2 linked regions of the Homo sapiens genome follow. The protein of the gene in region 2 interacts with the protein of the main gene of each other region in a biochemical or structural test. Each region holds a gene or a part of one and is shown on either strand. Other genes may lie near its edges.

Region 1 (8,407 bases), on a different chromosome or scaffold from region 2:
TTTCTTTTTCTTTTCCTTTTTTTTTTTTTTTTTTTTTTTTTGAGATAGAGTCTCACTCTGTCGCCCAGGATGGAGTGCAGTGGTGCAATCTTGGCTCACTGCAACCTACACCTCCCGGGTTCAAGCGATTCTCCTGCCTCAGCCTCCTGAGTAGCTGAGATTACAGGCACGCGCCACTACGCCTGGCTAATTTTTCTATTTTTATAGAGATGCGTTTTCACCATGTTGGCCAGGCTGGTCTTGAACTGACCTCAGGTGATCCACCTGCCTCAGCCTCCCAAAGTGCTGGGATTAGAGTCATGAGCCATCGCGGCCTGGTTTTTCTTTATTACAAATAGTGTTGCAATAAGCACCCTTGTGCATATGTTTTTGTGCACATGTACAAATATTTATGCAAAATAAGTCCTAAAATTGGAATTGTTAGGTCACAAATAATCCTTTCCCCCCCCCCAAATTTTTTTTTTTTTTTTGAGACAGCGTCTCTGTCACCCAGGCTGGAGTCCAGTGGCGCAATCATGGCTCACTGCAGCCTCAACGTCTCAGGCTCAAGTGATTCTCCAACCTCAGCCTCCCTAGTAGCTGGGATTAGAAGCACATGCCACCACACCCAGCTAATTTTAAAAAATTTTTTGTAGAGACAGAGTTTTGCCATGCTACCCAGGCTGGTCTCAAATTCCTGGGCTCAAGCAATCTGCCCGCTTCGGCCTCCCAAAGTGCTAGGATTACAGACATGAGCCACCATGCCCAGCCCAAAAAAGTTTTTGCAATCTTACATTCTTACTAGCATGAGAATGTCAGTTTTTTCACAACCCAAACAACACAGGATTGTATCAGCAAGATAAACAATTGATTTAACGTTCATTTAACAAACACTTTTTGACCCCCAGAACCTACCAGATGCAGTGTTAGGCAGCAGAGACTCAAGATGACTAAGACACAACCTGTGTCCTCAGGAAATCTCAATCTAAAAAAATAGAACAGGAAAGAAAGAAAAATCTACAATCTAGCTGCACAAACAATAATAGCTAATACTTTTTGAGATTTTATTGTTTGTCAGGAACTTCTTAACTCTTTACATGAGTTAAATATTTAATCCTTATAACAATATTTTATGCATAGAGAAACTGAGACACAGGCAAATTTAGTAACTTACCCGGGGTCACATAGCTACTGGGTGGCAAAGTCAGGGTTAGCACCCAGGACAAATGCCTCCACAGCTGGTACTGTGCTCTGCTTTACTGTAGCTAATAGTAAAAATGGTAGCAAAAATCAATAGCAGTAGAACAGTGCAACAGATATTAAGCGGAAGAGGAAGACTCACAACAATGACAACATTTGTGCTGAAATTTTTAGAACACATGGAATTTCTTCAGGCAGGTAGAGAGAAGATATAGAAAATGTAAACAGCAAAGATTGATAGTTTCTCTGTATGCCTTTCAGGGTCAGTGTGGTTCCTGTTGGGCTTTTAGCTCTGTGGGTGCCCTGGAGGGCCAACTCAAGAAGAAAACTGGCAAACTCTTAAATCTGAGTCCCCAGAACCTAGTGGATTGTGTGTCTGAGAATGATGGCTGTGGAGGGGGCTACATGACCAATGCCTTCCAATATGTGCAGAAGAACCGGGGTATTGACTCTGAAGATGCCTACCCATATGTGGGACAGGTGAGATTGCTCCACACAATTATACAGCTCTGTTGGCTCCTCCTTCCCCAGCATGATGTTTTGTACTGGAAACAATTCCAGAAATACTGTTTTCTGTTATCCTATCCTGCTTTCTTGATGGAATAATTTCCCACAGAAGGCCAAGAAGATTTCCACAATCTGGGGGAATTTAGGGAGCTTAAGCTACTATAGCTCCTATTTGCATCTCTGCCATGGAGAGAAAACAGAGGCTAGGCTACCTACCCCATAGACTTCCGAGCTGGGTTCTATAACCCTCTGCTCAATTCCTCACTCCCACAACAAACCCACAAACCCACCATGCTATTTTCACAAATTGTGTGGCTTTATTTTATATGATCTCAGTGTGAGTTTTCAGAACATTTCAGCAAATTATGTAAGTTTACATGCTAACATCTATAAAATGAGAGAAAAAACAAGTTGCTTCATATAAGAGATAAGGGATTAACTCAGTTCCTCCTGCATGATCCTCTAGTCATAGGAAGGAAATCATATCTGAAAGGGAGGCAACCTGAGGGGTTTTTTATACACATAGGGCTGGGTCTGATAGACAATATAATGTAGGGCCTTCACAACAGAAACCTCTGAAACAGGGACAGCAAGTTTGAGAATAAAAATGATGGCTACTGTGTTCTAAGCCGTGTCCTTAGTGCATTTTTTCTTTTTCTTTTTTTCATTTAATCTCATAACAACTCTGTTAGGTAGACTTATCTTGAATGTATAGGTGAGGAAATGGACACTTAAGGAGATAAGACAGTATAATTCATACCACTAGTATGTAACAATGTAAGATGTATCTACCAGGGATGTTTATCTTCTGCAAACATTCCTAGGTATATCTCCCATGCACATGTGCAAGAATTTCTTACTAGGATATAATGCCTTGGAACTGAATTGTCTGGGTCTTAGGGTATGTCTGTCTTCAACTTTACTACACAATGTCAAATTGTTTGCCAAAATATTTGGAAAAATTTATACCTGCAATGTGTAAGAAATCCCCTTCAATCACCTTTTTATCAGTATGTTTATCTGGCCATTTGCATTTCTTCTTCAGTGAATTAACTGTTTTTATCTCTTGCTCATTTGTTTTTCTTTTTATTTTTTTGAAATAGGGTCTTACTCTGTTGCCCAGGCTGGAGTGTGGTGATATAGTCATAGCTCACTGCAGCCTCCACTTCCTGGGCTCAAGCAATCCTCTCGCCTCAGCCTCCCAAATAGCTAGGATATAGGTGCATGCCATCATGCCCACCAATTTCAAAAAACCTTTGAAATTTTTTTTTGTAGAGGCTAGGCATGGTGGCTCATGCCTGTAATCCCAGCACTTTGGGAGGCTGAGGTGGGAGGATCACTTAAGCCCAGGAGTTCCAGATCAGCCTGGTACAACATAGCAAGACCTCATCTCTACAGAAAAAATTTTTAAAAGTAGCCAGGTATGATGGCGTGCATAGTTCTAGCTACTCAGGAGGCTGGTTGGGAGGACAACTTGAGCCTGGGAGTTCAAGGCTGCTGTGAGCTGTGATCATGTCACTGCTCTCTAGCCTGGGTGACAGAGTGAGACCCTGTCCCCAAAAACAACAACCGTTTTTTTTGGTAGAGACATTGTCTCGCTATGTTGCCAAGGCTAGTCTCAAACTCCTAGGCTCAAGCAATCCTCCCACCTCCCAAAGTGCTGGGATTATAGATGTAAGCCACCATGCCTGGCCTACCCTTTTTTTTTTTTTTTTGAAATGGAGTTTTGCTTTTGTCACCTAGGCTTGAGTGCAGTGGCGCGATCTTGGCTCACTGCAACCTCCACCTCCTGGATTCAAGCAATTCTCCTGCCTCAGCCTCCTGAGTAGCTGGGATTATAGGCACCCGCAACCACGCCCGGCTAGTTTTTGTATTTTTAGTACAGACAGGGTTTCACCATGTTGGCCAGGCTGGTCTTGAACCCCTGACCTCAGGTGGTCCGCCCGCCTCGGCCTCCCAAAGTGCTGGGATTACAGGTGTGAGCCACCATGCCCCACCCCTTACTCATTTTTAATTGGATTGTTTTTTCTCTTTCTTAGCGATTCTTAAAAGTTTAAAGAGAATATTTGGATACAATACTATGTATTTAAAAGTTGAGGTTTGTCTTTTCATTCTTTTTATGATGTCTTTCAATCTAGAAAAGTTAATTTTAATAGGCCTGGCGCGGTGGCTCACGCTTGTAATCCCAGCACTTTGGGAGGCTGAGATGGGTGGATCACAAGGTCAGGAGATCAAGACCATCCTGGCTAACATGGTGAAACCCTGTCTCTACTAAAAATACAAAAAAATTAGCTGGGCGTGGTGGCAGGTGCCTGTAGTTCCAGCTACTCGGGAGGCTGAGGCAGGAGAATGGCGTGAACCCGGGAGGTGGAGCTTGCAGTGAGCCGAGATTGCACCACTGCACTCCAGCCTGGGCAACTGAGCAAGACTGCGTTTCAAAAAAAAAAAAAAGTTAATTTTAATATAGTAAAATTAGTAAAATGATTAATTTTCCTTTGCAATTTTTGTAATGTGTTTTATTCGTTTATGAATGGAGAAAGGTAAGAAAAAATAAAATTTAAAAAAGAAGAGATGTGGCCAGGTACGGTGGCTCACACCTATAATCCCAGTAGTTTGGGAGGCTGAGGCAGGCAGATCACTTGAGGTCAGGAGTTTGAGACCAGCTGGGATAACATGGTGAAACCCCATCTCTACTAAAAATACAAAAATTAGCCAGGTGTGATTGCGCACGCTTGTAATCCCAGCAGGCTGAGGCAGGAGAATTGCTCGAACTCAGGAGGCAGAGGTTGCAGTGAGCCAAGATCATGCCATTGCACTCCAGCCTGGGTAACAGAGACTCTGTCTCAAAAAATAAAAAGATAAAAAAGAAGAGATCTGATAGGGCGGCCAGATAACATTTTAAAGGGATGGTATTATAAGTTTGTTCCAGCATAATGCAGGTTATTCTGACTTTAAAGTATCATCACATAATATCTTTTTGAGTCAATTTCCAAGATATTCTGTTTCACTTGTAATTCTGTGTAATTTTTGGCACCAGGAGGCATCAGGGATTTGGAGCACATGGCAGAAACAAAGGCATCTTGAAAAATATCAAGGCAGTAGACCACTGTAATCTTAAAATGGCATATCAAATGCTGCTATTGCTGTTAATATTTAGATAATGTTAGATAATGTATTTTTTTAGAGGGTATCTCACTATCTTGCACAGGCTGGAGTAGAGTGGCTATTCACAGCATGATCACAGTACACTAAAGGCTCAAACTCCTGGGCACAAACAATCCTCCTGCCTCAGCCTGCTGAGTAGTAGATAATAAGTTCTTGTGGATGCAACCTTAGGGTTCTGAAGGGGTAGTCTGTAGGAAAATGAATTGCTGAAAAGAATACACCACCTTAACATGGGCTATTATTCGATTCCATAATTGTGGCTTGCCAATGAAACATTGCTAACTACCTGTAAAATATAGTGTTGGAAGTCATAGGCTAAATTGCTAAGTTCTTTAATCTATTTTAGTGTCTTGTTATGTACTTTTATATTTTGTCTTTGATGAGAGCACAAGGATCACACCAGTTCCCCTGATATAGGTGCAGAGGGCCCAGGTCTTCCCTCTAGCTAAGCCTTGGCCTTGGCCTCCTACCCACACAGCAGCTGGTGCCTTCCTGCCCCCTGAGGCTAATACATACTATGTGGCCAGAAGATGGTTTATGCTTTTTAAAAAAATCTTATTTCAGAAATCTTTCCCTACTGTTTTCCTCCCACATTTATGTCTTAAAACACCTGTAGTTGATTTTTTTTTTTTTTGAGATGGAGTCTCGCTCTCGCCCAGGCTGGAGTGCAATGGCGCGATCTTGGCTCACTACAAGGTCTGCCTCCCAGGTTCACGCCATTCTCCTGCCTCAGCCTCCCCAGTAGCTGGGACTACAGGCGCCCGCTACCACGCCTGGCTAATTTTTTTGCATTTTTAGTAGAGACAGGGTTTCACTGTGTTAGCCAGGATGGTCTCGATCTCCTGACCTCGTGATCCACCCTCCTCAGCCTCCCAAAGTGCTGGGATTACAGGCATGAGCCACCGCACCTGGCCTGTAGTTGGTTTTTATGTGTGGTGGAAGGCGGGAATCCTCTTTTCATATTCGTTTTTCTGAGGAAGAACAGACCCTCTCTAGAAACCCTAGACTGCTGCCTCTGTTAGTTCACTGGCATCACTCAAAATATTGGTTGAGTTTCTTACTCACTGACTCATTGCCTATTGCTTTGTCCTAGTCCTATTACAATCTTGTTTCTTCCAGGAAGAGAGTTGTATGTACAACCCAACAGGCAAGGCAGCTAAATGCAGAGGGTACAGAGAGATCCCCGAGGGGAATGAGAAAGCCCTGAAGAGGGCAGTGGCCCGAGTGGGACCTGTCTCTGTGGCCATTGATGCAAGCCTGACCTCCTTCCAGTTTTACAGCAAAGGTAAGAAGCTGCTGATCCTATACAGCACTGTCTTTTATGATACAAACTTGATGGTTTCTCGAAGGACCTTGGGTATTTTCAGTACTTAGTTTTTGTATTCACATGGAGGTGGCCAGAGAGAAATTAACAACTGCTGCAGTATGGAGCAGCATCTCTGTGGTAAACCCTCCTGACACGGATGGAATTCTTCAAACAGTCTCCTAGACTGGGAGATCCCACAGGGTGACCCTTGGATTGCATAGAGCCTCACGCTGGTAGTTTGTATTCTAGGTGTGTATTATGATGAAAGCTGCAATAGCGATAATCTGAACCATGCAGTTTTGGCAGTGGGATATGGAATCCAGAAGGGAAACAAGCACTGGATAATTAAAAACAGGTAATGATGGGAACACTACTTTTGTTATTCAGTCACCCTTTTAACACTCAACCTCACCTCCAGCTTCCCGATATTCCTTTCTCTGTCCCAAATCAAGAAAAAATTATCTCAGAGTTCTCACTTCTATCTTCTCAGTCAGAGGCTCTTAATTCTCAGTCTGACACTTAATGGCCAGTGTGTTAGTCCATTTTGCATTGCCACAAAAGAATACCCGAGACTGGGTAATTTATAAAGAAACGAGGTTTGTTTGGCTATACAAAGCGTGGCACTAGTATCTGCTCAGCCTCTGATGAGGCCTCAGAGCTTTTACTCATGGCAGAAGGCAAAAGAGGGAGCAGGCATGTCACATAGTGAGAGAGGGAGCAAGAGAGAGAGGGAGGTGCCGACTCTTTAAAGAACCAGCTCTTGCATGAACTAATAGAGTGAGAACTCACTCATCACCAAGGCGATGGCACCAAGCCATTCATGAGGAATCCACTCTCATAACCCAAACACCTCCCACTATGCCCCACCTCCCACATTGGGGATCACATTTCAGCATGAGACTGGGAGGGGACACACATCCAAACCATATCCGCCAGACAATAGTGCTCAATTATGTGCTGGGCAGATGCTCCCTGTGTGCAAGGTGCTTAGTGACATACATAAACCAACGAGCAGATGACACCTTCAGTGAGCTCAGAGCCCAATAAGACAGACCTAACTAACCATGAGATAAAGCAGTACAAAGAACCAGCAGGAGCTTTGGAATTACGTATTTTTACTTTCTTTTGTCTCTAATGTGATCAGTTTCTTAGATGGTTTCCATTAGCAATCTGTCTTTAACAGTAGGGGAACAGCGTAAAGGTTTAATATTCCTTTGAACAGTTTTTTTCCTTCAAAATACACTTAAGATACACGTATATAAGAACTTGCCAAAGATTGTGAAGAGAAACATTTTTTAGAAATAAGATATAAACAAAAAAAGTTAGTGTTTACTTTCCTATGTTGGGGAACAAAGAAAACTCCAGGGTACCTTGCTTCCCATTTCTCTTTAGCACCTTGTGACTTTTGGGGAGGGGCAGATTGATAACAATTATAGTTTTCCTTTCCTGGCTGATCACCATTAACCTGGCAGCAGCACTGGCTAAATCTCCTGTCCTTAGTGCCCTCCAAGGAGCAGGAGCCCTAGACTCTGGGTCGCTGACAGACTCACGCAGTGGTGTTGTTCAAACCTGAAGCAACTTTTTATATCACAGTTCCAACTCAAGGTGAACCTGAGCATCTTCCCAAGTCTCCCACAGCTTCTGTCCTGTGTTGTCCCTTCTCTTGACTCCCAGGTCCAAGCACTTACCCTGTTCTTTCATGATCAGGTACCATGTGTGGAGATAGCTTCCAAGAGAGCTGGGAGGAAGAAAGGACACACCCGGGCAGGATCAGGAACACTGGGGGCCCCTGGAGAAGGGGAGAGTGGGGGAGGGTACAGGTTTTAAATAAAATGTGTTGGGTAATTAGAGAAGTTGCTGGTTGGGGAAAGAGGACTGAAAACAATTCAGGAAGATAAACAGACAATCTCTCCTCTCTCCTCTTTCTCACGTCGTCTCTCTTGTCTTCTAGTCTCGCTACTCATTTCCTTAGTAATCTCATCCACTCTCATAGTTTCATCCATCTCTCCTATGGGGTTTACTCCCAAATCAAGATCACCAGCTTCAGCCTCTTTCTTATGCTCTAAACTCACATTTTCAAGATTAATATTCCCCAAATACAGCTCTGATCATATCACTCTCCCACTCAAAATCCCTCACTGGCTCCTCACGATGATGGGTCACAGAGTAAAGGTGAAGCTTTTTAACCTTGCAGTAAAGGTAATTCAACCTGATCTCAATCTGCCTTTCCAGACATCTCTCCCACTACAC
Region 2 (9,958 bases):
TTCATGTTTTGTCTCCGTCAGTGATATTTTGATGCTACCATATGCCATATAGCAAAGTCCCTTTCCTTCCACCGTGTGTTTCTCAGCATGTGAACAACTCAGTCTCAGAATTCCATTTGGAGGTCTGCTTTCTAGAGCTATTCCTGATACCAAGTACTTGCTATTAATCAAGGTCGCTACAGAAAACAAAGGGCACCATCAAATCTGTAATCAAATAGAGGGACTATTTACAACAGTATGATTCGGACTAAGAGGAAGCAACAAAGAATGGTGAAACATCCAAGATCTAGCAATAGCGAAGAGACTATTCTAACCCTAGTCCAGAAGGGCAAATGGTGAAGTCATTACCAAACCCCAGAGAAAGTAGATGTAGCTTTGGAAAACATTGCCCAATAAGCTCTGTAGCCTTTGGTAAAGTAACGCAAACATCTCTTTTGACCCTCAAAGTGAGGGATCCAGTTGGCTAAGCACTCTGTCTTCACCTAGTTGCTGACCTACTCTTGGTGCCTGCCATTGACCAAATCTAACTGGATGCCAGAGGGCACAGGAGCCTTATTATGTCTCTGTACAACTCAGCTTCTTGGAACCCATACGAGGTAGAGAAGAATGAAAGGTGTAACTGAAGAAGCAAAATAAGATACCCAGCACAGCCACATTCCCATGAGGGCAAATTTCTTTATGTCTCTAGAACTTCACATCTCCATTGGTACTCCAGAGACAAGCATCAACAATAGTTACATTTTTTATGTAAAAAACCATATTCAGGTACATGAAACACAAGGATTCCAATGAACAAAAGGGTAAAAGAAAGACAATTCACGAAAGAGGAAATTAAACTAGAAAAGAGATGTAAAATAACATTGGCTGTCTGTTGCCAATCAAATGAAAGCTTTGAAGTCACTCAGAATAATTGAAGCAGTTTGAATAAAGAGCGGAGATGTGATAGATTACTTAGTGAATATGAAGGAGCAGCATAGAAGATGGTAGGAGGTACATGGTATACCTGCATGGCCAACAAAATTAAAATAGGACATTGAAGACAGAGAAAAACGATGGCTAGAAAAGCAGTAGGAATAAAAGAGAAGATCATGCTTCCTGGCTTCATGGTATGAGAATGGAGGAGTGAGTAGATACCCATGAGAAAAGATCAAGGGGCATGCAGCCATCAGGGAAAATCCATAGTGCAGATAAAGCAAGGAGGAAGAAGGACAGTTCTAGTAAAAGGGAGAACATCAGTATAGGATGTTTCTTCGCAATAGAAAAAGAAGGCCAAGAGGAATCAGGGAGAGAGTTATAAGAGAAGACTAAGGGGACCAGGTTAGATTTGGTTTGGTTTGAAAGCATACAGTAAATATGATGTCTGTCCCTGGTGGTGTTGGTTGAGTAGGAAGGAGGAAGGGAGGCAAGAGATAATATCATTTTGTCTGTGCTACTGTAATTACATATATCAGGGGAAATTCAGCCAGATATCAGGTAAAATTCACCCCTGATATTTCACGTAGGTTCTTTTCTATTTTCCCTAAGTGTCGGCTGGTCTGAGAAATAAAGGGATAGAGTACAAAAGAGAGAAATTTTAAAGCTGGGTGTCTGGGGAAGACATCACAGTTTGGCAGGTTCCATGATACCCCCTGAGCCACAAAACCAGCAAGTTTTTATTAGTGATTTCAAAAGGAGAGGGAGTGTACGAATAGAGTGTGGGTCACAGAGATCACGTGCTTCACAAGGTGATAGAATATCACAAGGCAAATGGAGGCAGGGTGAGATCACAGGACCACAGGACCTGGGTGAAATTAAAATTGCTAATGAAGTTTCGGGCACGCATTGTCATTGATAACATCTTATCAGGAGACAGGGTTTGAGAGCAGACAACCGGTCTGACCAAAAATTTATTAGATGGGACTTTCCTCATCCTAATAAGCCTAGGAGCGCTACGGGAGGTTGGGGCTTATTTCATCCCTACAGCTTCAACCATAAAAGACGGCTGCCCCCCAAAGCGGCCATTTTAAAGGCCTACCCTCAGGGGCATATTCTCTTTCTCAGGGATGTTCCTTGATGAGAAAAAGAATTCAGCGATATTTCTCCCATTTGCTTTTGAAAGAAGAGAAATATGGCTCTGTTCCACCCAGCTCACCGGCGGTCAGAGTTTAAGGTTATCACTCATGTTCCCTGAACATTGCTGTTATCCTGTTCTTTTTTCAAGGTGCCCAGATTTCATATTGTTCAAACACACATGCTCTACAAATAATTTATGCAGTTAATGCAATCATCACAGGGTCCTGGGACCACATACATTCTCCTCAGCTTGCAAAGATGATGGGATTAAGAGATTAAAGTAAAGACAGGCATAGGAAATCACAAGGGTATTGATTGAGGAAGTGATAAGTGTTCATGAAATCTTCACAATTTATGTTCAGAGATTGCAGTAAAGACAGGCATAAGAAATTATAAAAGTATTAATTTGGGGAACTAATAAATGTCCATGAAAACTTCATAATCTATGTTCTTCTGCCATGGCTTCAGCCAGTCCCTCGGTTCAGGGTCCCTGACTTCCTGCAACATACATGTGAGACTATTTCCCGCTCTGCTTTTCAAACCTTACTGGAGTTGTTTTCCCTCATGAAAACTAAGAAAGGAAAGCTAGTTAATCTTATTCTGAGGTTGTTCAATATATACATATTCACATCTGTAGAGAGATCCTTGGGAATACAGTAATTGGCATATATTCTGTTATTTGATGCTTGAAAAATCTCTTCCACTAACCAGTTTCCCTATAGATAGGCACAAGCACATAGGTAAGAAACAATAAATAAATGTTCTCTTTAATTTGTAACTTCACAATGCTGAGAAAACTTTACAGCCTTCATAAGGAAGTGAGGTCCAGGAAAATCTAGGAGATATTTGTTAACCAACCTATAAAGACATTAGTAATGACAGGATATTTCCTGAAAGTGTAATTTCCCATTGAGGATTTGTTTTTAATTTCTGGATTCCTGGATCCAATGAAGTTGGCATAGGTTTATGAAATGCCAAGATACATAAGTTGGCAAGTGTTCACATGCAAAAAACTTCTTGGAATTCCTGAGCTCTCTGTGGCAATATATGACATCAGGATATGTCCCATCTCGCACATCAGGATATGTCCTGTCAAGAATGTCTATCACATGCCAGGAGTACTTTTTAGGAACAGAAAAAAATGTCTGAAATGGTTTCTCATTTGAACTCATCCAAGCTTTCTCTAAATTTAAGCAAACTCCTGGTCATTTTCAGTTAGTACCTTTCCTCAAGTTCAACCTTCATGACAAACCTCAGCATCTCAGAAGATTTAGCCATAGTCTGAAATTCTCTTCCATAGACTGGTCCCCTGTAATCCCAGTTTGCCTCAGCTTGTTATCCTGCTTTTTATTCCCCTCTATTCCCAGGCTGAGCTTCTTGCTTCTGTCCTATGAGACGTTAGATTCCTTCGCTTTGGTACCCAAGTAAACCCATCCTTCTCCATATACAGGAAGGTCCATTTTTCTCTTACAGCCCTGGATGCAGACTCAGCTAAGAAGACCATTATTCATTTTTGGAATTCTTCATCTAGGATATTTCCTCTTGTTTCTTTCTCTCCTATCTTTGAGCTTTTTAGATCATCAACACCCCATTAGTCTATTACCCAACTTAAATCAGGGAACTTATACCTCCCAAACTCATTCAGAGACTCCAAACATATATATTGATACAGGAGACCTAAGAAGAGCATGTCTTGGGGGTTGAGGAAACAGGCAGGTGAGAAACTTCCAGATTGGAAACACAGCTTCCTTTCTCCCGTCCAGCCCCTACTTCATCCTATCTGTTTCCGGAACCTTGTTGTAGATGAATCTCCCTTGACTTCATGATGTGCTGAGAAAACAAACTCATGGCTGGTGTTAAAAAGGGCCCATGACAATACCAAGTGTTGGGGAGAATGTGGAGAAATCAGAACTCTATTCACAGTCGGTTGGAATGCACACTTGTGCAGAATTCTATGGAGAAGAGTCTGGCATTTCCTCAAAATGTTAACCTGGATTTACCATATGACCCAGCGATTTCATTCATAGGTTTATACTCAAAAGAAATGAAGAAATATGCCATGCAAAAAAATGTACATGAAAAGTCAAAACATCATTATTCATAATAGTAAATGGATGGAAACAACACAAATGTCCATCAACTTATGAATAAAGAAAATGTGGTCTATTCATAGAATGGAATATTATTCGACCACAAAAAGGAATGATGTACTGATCCATGCAATGACGTGGACAAACCTTGAAGATAATACTAGATGAAAGAAGCCAGTCACAAAAGGACTTACTGTATGATTCGATTTACGTGAAATGTTTAGAATAGGCAAATCCATAGAAACAGGAGGTAGATTACTGGTTTCCAGGGTCTCGAGTAAGGGAAGAACGAGATACAAGTTTTCTTTTGGAGGTAGTGAAATTGTTGTGGAACGAGATCATGATGGTGATAGCACAACTTTGTGAATATAATAAAATCATTGAATTGTACAGTTGAATTTGTGGCATATAAATTATATGTTAAAAAAGGGGGTCCACAAAACAAACAGCCCCCCACTCTGGTTGTCAGGGAGATATTGGATTAAATGGCCTTGGACAACAACCCTCTCCCTGGCCACAGACATTCTTCAGATTACAAGATATTCCAGAGGAAACACTGGAATGAGTCTGAAGCCAGGTGCTAAATGGAAGGACCACCAAGAAACGTTGTGATCCTGACAGGTCAAGCAACTTCTTTTTCTGCTTAATTTTTAAATGAAAAATTAGAAAGCTGACATTCAAAATGGCCCGTCTGTTTCAATTGCTCTTCTCAGTGTCAGCCTGTTAACTCAATGTGTTAGTCTGTTTTCATGCTGCTGATAAAGACATACCTGAGATTAGGAAGTAAAAGAGGTTTAATTGGACTTAGAGTTCCACGTGATTGGGGAGGCCTCAGAATCACGGTAGGAGGCAAAAGTTATTCTTACATGGTGGCTGCAAGAGAAAATGAGGAAGAAGCAAAAGAAGAAACCCCTAATAAACCCATTGGATCTCCTGAGACTTATTAACTATCATGAGAATAGCACAAGAAAGACCGGCCCCCATGATTCAATTACCTCTACCTGGGTCCCTCCAACAACATGTGGAAATTCTGGTAGATACAATTCAAGTTGAGATTTGGGTGGGAACACAGCCAAACCATATCACTCAGCAAGGCAGATAACTTTCTCACTGAGCCTATGCAACAGAAAACCATCTGGGATGGTTGTAAGGGGCACAGGAAGTGACTGGTAGGATCACTGCCAAAGCTGAGCATTCAGGAGAAGGCAATAGAATCCTATTCTCCATAGTATGCTATAAGATACTGAAGTACACTTCTTCACTATCTCTTTGGACTTAGAATTAGCACTATATTCCTTGTTATACAGAAAAATTACTAAGGAAATTCATAGGATGACAAAAACTTTCAGAACTGAAAAACAGGAAATGTAAGCTTTTTAGTTCTTTGGTATTCGAAGTATGCCTAAAAGACAATGCAAAATCCAAGAAAAGAATGGTGGGGTTTTTGTTTGTTTGTTTTTGTTTTTGTTTTACAGCTGGAGTAGAATACAAAGGGATGGAGTTGAAACAAATGAGAGGAAATTGGAATTCTAAACTTATTCTCATTGGCATTAGAAAGGCACCTACATGTATTTCACATGAGCCGGTGACTGCTGACTTGCATTCTTATTTTTTCCCTATAGATTAAAAAGGAGGTACAATGGTAGAACTGTAATCCTGTCCTTTGTCATAAATTTTCGTATTCATAAAGGTGAGTGTTAGCCCGCTTGTGAAATCTGAAGTTGAGTAACTTCAAATACTAACCACAGAGGGAGAGGCAGCAAGAGGAGAGGCATAAATTCAGGATCTCACCCTTCATTCCACAGACACACATAGCCTCTCTGCCCACCTCTGCTTCCTCTAGGAACACAGGTAAGAGCTTCAAGCCTCTCCAGCTTAATAACATGAATTATTTTTGAGAATAATAATGATACTGTGTTCTATATCATGCATCTCCTGCATTCTGTCTGATTATATTTTACTTATTCTGCCAGAGCAAAATTAAAATACCTATTTCATCTGATTTGTCCTTTATCTAAATTGCTTAGTTCCAAGTAAACCAAGGCACTTTTAGGAACACAGAGGGAGAGTGCCTTGCAGCCAGAGAGTCTTGAAGGAGATGTCAGGGACGCATCTTAACAGCTGGTTGGATGTGATCCACAGAGGTCTCCTGTTAGCATTCATTGTAAAGCCTTCCTACCTAGCCCTAGTGTAGCCAGCAATGAAGGAAAGAGGGTCTATTACTTATTTACAGTAGTCTTTAAAAACACTAATTTTGTGAGGCTTCTAATTAAGACATTAATATATTTAATATATGCACATTGTAGAAAGATTGAAACGTTAAAAATAAGATGAGGAAAACTTTAAATGTCAAAATCTCACAACACAGATATATAATTTCTTTAAGAAAATTGTACTACAAAATACCATTCCATTTATTAAAGTCATTCTGACAGGAATCTGATGCTTTTCCAGGAGTTCCAGATCACATCGAGTTCACCATGAATTCACTCAGTGAAGCCAACACCAAGTTCATGTTCGACCTGTTCCAACAGTTCAGAAAATCAAAAGAGAACAACATCTTCTATTCCCCTATCAGCATCACATCAGCATTAGGGATGGTCCTCTTAGGAGCCAAAGACAACACTGCACAACAGATTAAGAAGGTAGCTATCAGCATCATTATGTTGTCCTGTTGCAGTTTTTCTCTGGTTCCGTCGGCTAGCACGCAGATGGTAATAGATGTGGTGGTCTGATGGGTAGCACAGGGGGCTGAGCAGGAATTCCCGTAACTGTGAGACCACTGACTTAAACAGATCTTTTGAGTAAAGTTTTCTTGTCCCGCTTCATGTCTCTTCCAGGTTCTTCACTTTGATCAAGTCACAGAGAACACCACAGGAAAAGCTGCAACATATCATGTGAGTCACAGAGCACTATGGTTCAGCTTTAGATCCCCGAACAGGTCATAGTTTGAACCTGGAACTTCACAGAAACTAAGAAAAGGCCATTTTTAGGGAAAATCTTGGACACAAAGATTGAGACATACAGAGTGGGTTGGCATTTCATGGCACATAATTATTATTCCTCCTTTCTTCGTTACTGAAAGACAGTCAGCACTGTACCTCAGAGCATAGGTCTGGATCAGGATAGGCTAGGTTCAGACTCCAGCTTTGCTCTTCACAAATGGTGAACATGAGCAGGACACAACTGCTCAGAGTCCCAGTGACCTCATCCCAGAAAACTAAGGGTAATAAGAAATCTGACTCAATACATGCAAATACATGCAAATGTTTACAACATTGCCTTGCCCATAAAATGTCATAATAAATGTTATTATTATTATAAAATAGCTATAATTATACTAATCACAATAATGTTGCAAAATATTTAATTTTCATTGAGTCATTAATGAGATAAAGAGGAATAAGCACAAGTCCAACTATATTTTGGAAAATGATTGCTATGGAATATATTGGTTTAGAGCCTTAATAGTGCAAAATGCTTTGCTGGAAAGTAGAAGTTTCTAGATTTAAACAGGCTTAGGTTCAAAACGTGGCACTTCTAATTTATGTCTCTATGAAGAGGTTTACTTTCCATTCTCTGAGCTTTCTTGTTTTCACCTGAATTGAACTAAAGACTTAAAGTTACCCATGTAAAGTCCTTAGCCATGTACCTGGCACACACTCTTCTTACGTGCAGAGAATGACCATCATGAGGAAACAGTCACAGATCAGTCAATGTGTCCTACAAGATAACAGCACCAACAGGTATAACAGGGCTTCCTGGCATAATCTATTTAAAATATCCAACCTTCAACATACTCATATCCTTGATGACTGTTAGAAGTGAAATATGGTCCTTGCCTTTAAGGAGCTGAGAGTTTAACTGGGAAGCTAAACCTAACCCTTTAAACCAACAAGGACAAAATCCAGTGGTAGACAGTGCTGCATCTATAGTTCAGAAGAGAAAAGATTGCAGTACATTAGAGCAAGAAGAATTTCCTGGAAGAAGTGAAACATAAGGTGGATTTTGAAGGGTATTTGAGGTGAAATACACCAAGTATCAGGGAATAAGCTCAAAGGTCCTCATTGAGACTACCAGCCATTAGGGACTGATCTAACAGACTTAGCATGGGTTTAGTATTTACATTGATACAGCAATTGAATGATCTCCTTTTTTGATGTTTGAAGGTTGATAGGTCAGGAAATGTTCATCACCAGTTTCAAAAGCTTCTGACTGAATTCAACAAATCCACTGATGCATATGAGCTGAAGATCGCCAACAAGCTCTTCGGAGAAAAAACGTATCTATTTTTACAGGTAATTTCACCTGGCCTACCCACATTTCATTTGCATCCTGATGTCTGTGTCTCTGAGTGGCCAAATGGAAGAAAGCAAGGCAGATGAGCCTGACCGATCCAGGTGGAGAGCATTTACTCAGAGTGCAATAGCTCCGTTTCCACAACTCTCCCCCACTGGAGTGTCCCAGACCCTAACAATACATCACTGAAGTGTGGATTTAGGGATAATCTTGTAATAAAAGAGGAGGTTGGGTAATAGAGTGAGTAAGAGTAATAAGTAATAAGATACCATCGATAAACTGGCACTGACTCAGTCACATACGATACATCTTGGTGGGAAATGTATGACTAATGGGATATTATTGGAATGGGCAGGCTTGGGTGAGTTCCTGAGAATAGTTGAGGAAGTACCAGGAAATACTGAATGCACAGGATGAAAGATAAAAACAAAGATCAGAAACATCATGGTTGAAATTACTGGAAAGAGGTCTGAGAAGCAATGAATCTCCTTCAGGGAAGCCTGCTCTGCAGTTTGCAAACCACAGCCTCTTCTGCTTCTGCCTTTTGCCAGATGATATTGACCTTCGGTGACCTCTTTCTTGCGCCAGCCCGCACTCCGCTTTTGCATTGCCTACATGGCACCAGTATAAAAATATGCATGGACAGGAGATACTGCATCTATTCAGGGTCTGGATTCAGCTTACTATAATTATAAATAACTAAATTTGGTAATATATAGTTACATAAATTACTCTTACTTCCTACTTTCTTCCTTCATATCTCAAAGGAATATTTAGATGCCATCAAGAAATTTTACCAGACCAGTGTGGAATCTGTTGATTTTGCAAATGCTCCAGAAGAAAGTCGAAAGAAGATTAACTCCTGGGTGGAAAGTCAAACGAATGGTAGGAGAGCCACCCATTATAGAAACACCTTTGAGAAATCTATGCGAGTGAGCCCTATGCCTGAAACTGCATGGGGGACCATGGGTGGGAATTGAGATGGCTTTGCAGGGAGGGAAGAAGAGGGCACTCCAGATGAAGAGTTTTTCCAAATGATTATGAAGAGAGCCTAGGGGAGCCAAGGAGGAAATCACAGGAAGCCAATTAGAAGAAAACATAGCCGGAGGATTCTTTGCTCATGTTCCTGGATGACAATAGCTTTGTGGATCCCTTGTCTCCACTCAGGTCCAATTTGAGATCATGTCCTTTACTTTAAATCAGAACCAATATTTTATGATGAATATTTAAAAGGAAACATTAGAAAGCATCTCCCTTCCCCTTTACTAATTGGGAAACAAGCAGCTCTCTGGTAAATCACCCTTTTGCCATCTGAACTAGAGCTGCCTGGATCACATCTCTAGCCACAAGTTCTGCAGGGATTATCACAGCTCTCTTCCCCATCAAGGGCAAGAGCTTAACAAATTCTCCATTCTATAGACATCTATCCTACCTCCCACCTCTCATTACAGGCCAAACTTACAGCAACTCAACATGAGAGTGAATAGGAAGATACCCCCGGAAGTAGTGTCTGACAG

What was found.
Region 1: the proteins of SERPINB3 (region 2) and CTSK form a complex in vitro, tested with the Homo sapiens proteins (one study listed by BioGRID).

Annotation. Positions count from the first base shown.
Region 1 is NC_000001.11:150,797,273-150,805,679, reverse strand, and holds part of CTSK (cathepsin K preproprotein), read left to right. Parts: intron 1-1,440; coding exon 1,441-1,659; intron 1,660-5,970; coding exon 5,971-6,136; intron 6,137-6,406; coding exon 6,407-6,512; intron 6,513-8,407. UniProt on the Homo sapiens protein: Thiol protease involved in osteoclastic bone resorption and may participate partially in the disorder of bone remodeling. Displays potent endoprotease activity against fibrinogen at acid pH. May play an important role in extracellular matrix degradation.
Region 2 is NC_000018.10:63,657,881-63,667,838, reverse strand, and holds the start of SERPINB3 (serpin B3), read left to right. Parts: upstream 1-5,945; 5' UTR 5,946-5,993; intron 5,994-6,596; 5' UTR 6,597-6,622; coding exon 6,623-6,787; intron 6,788-6,982; coding exon 6,983-7,039; intron 7,040-8,311; coding exon 8,312-8,440; intron 8,441-9,208; coding exon 9,209-9,326; intron 9,327-9,958. UniProt on the Homo sapiens protein: May act as a papain-like cysteine protease inhibitor to modulate the host immune response against tumor cells. Also functions as an inhibitor of UV-induced apoptosis via suppression of the activity of c-Jun NH(2)-terminal kinase (JNK1).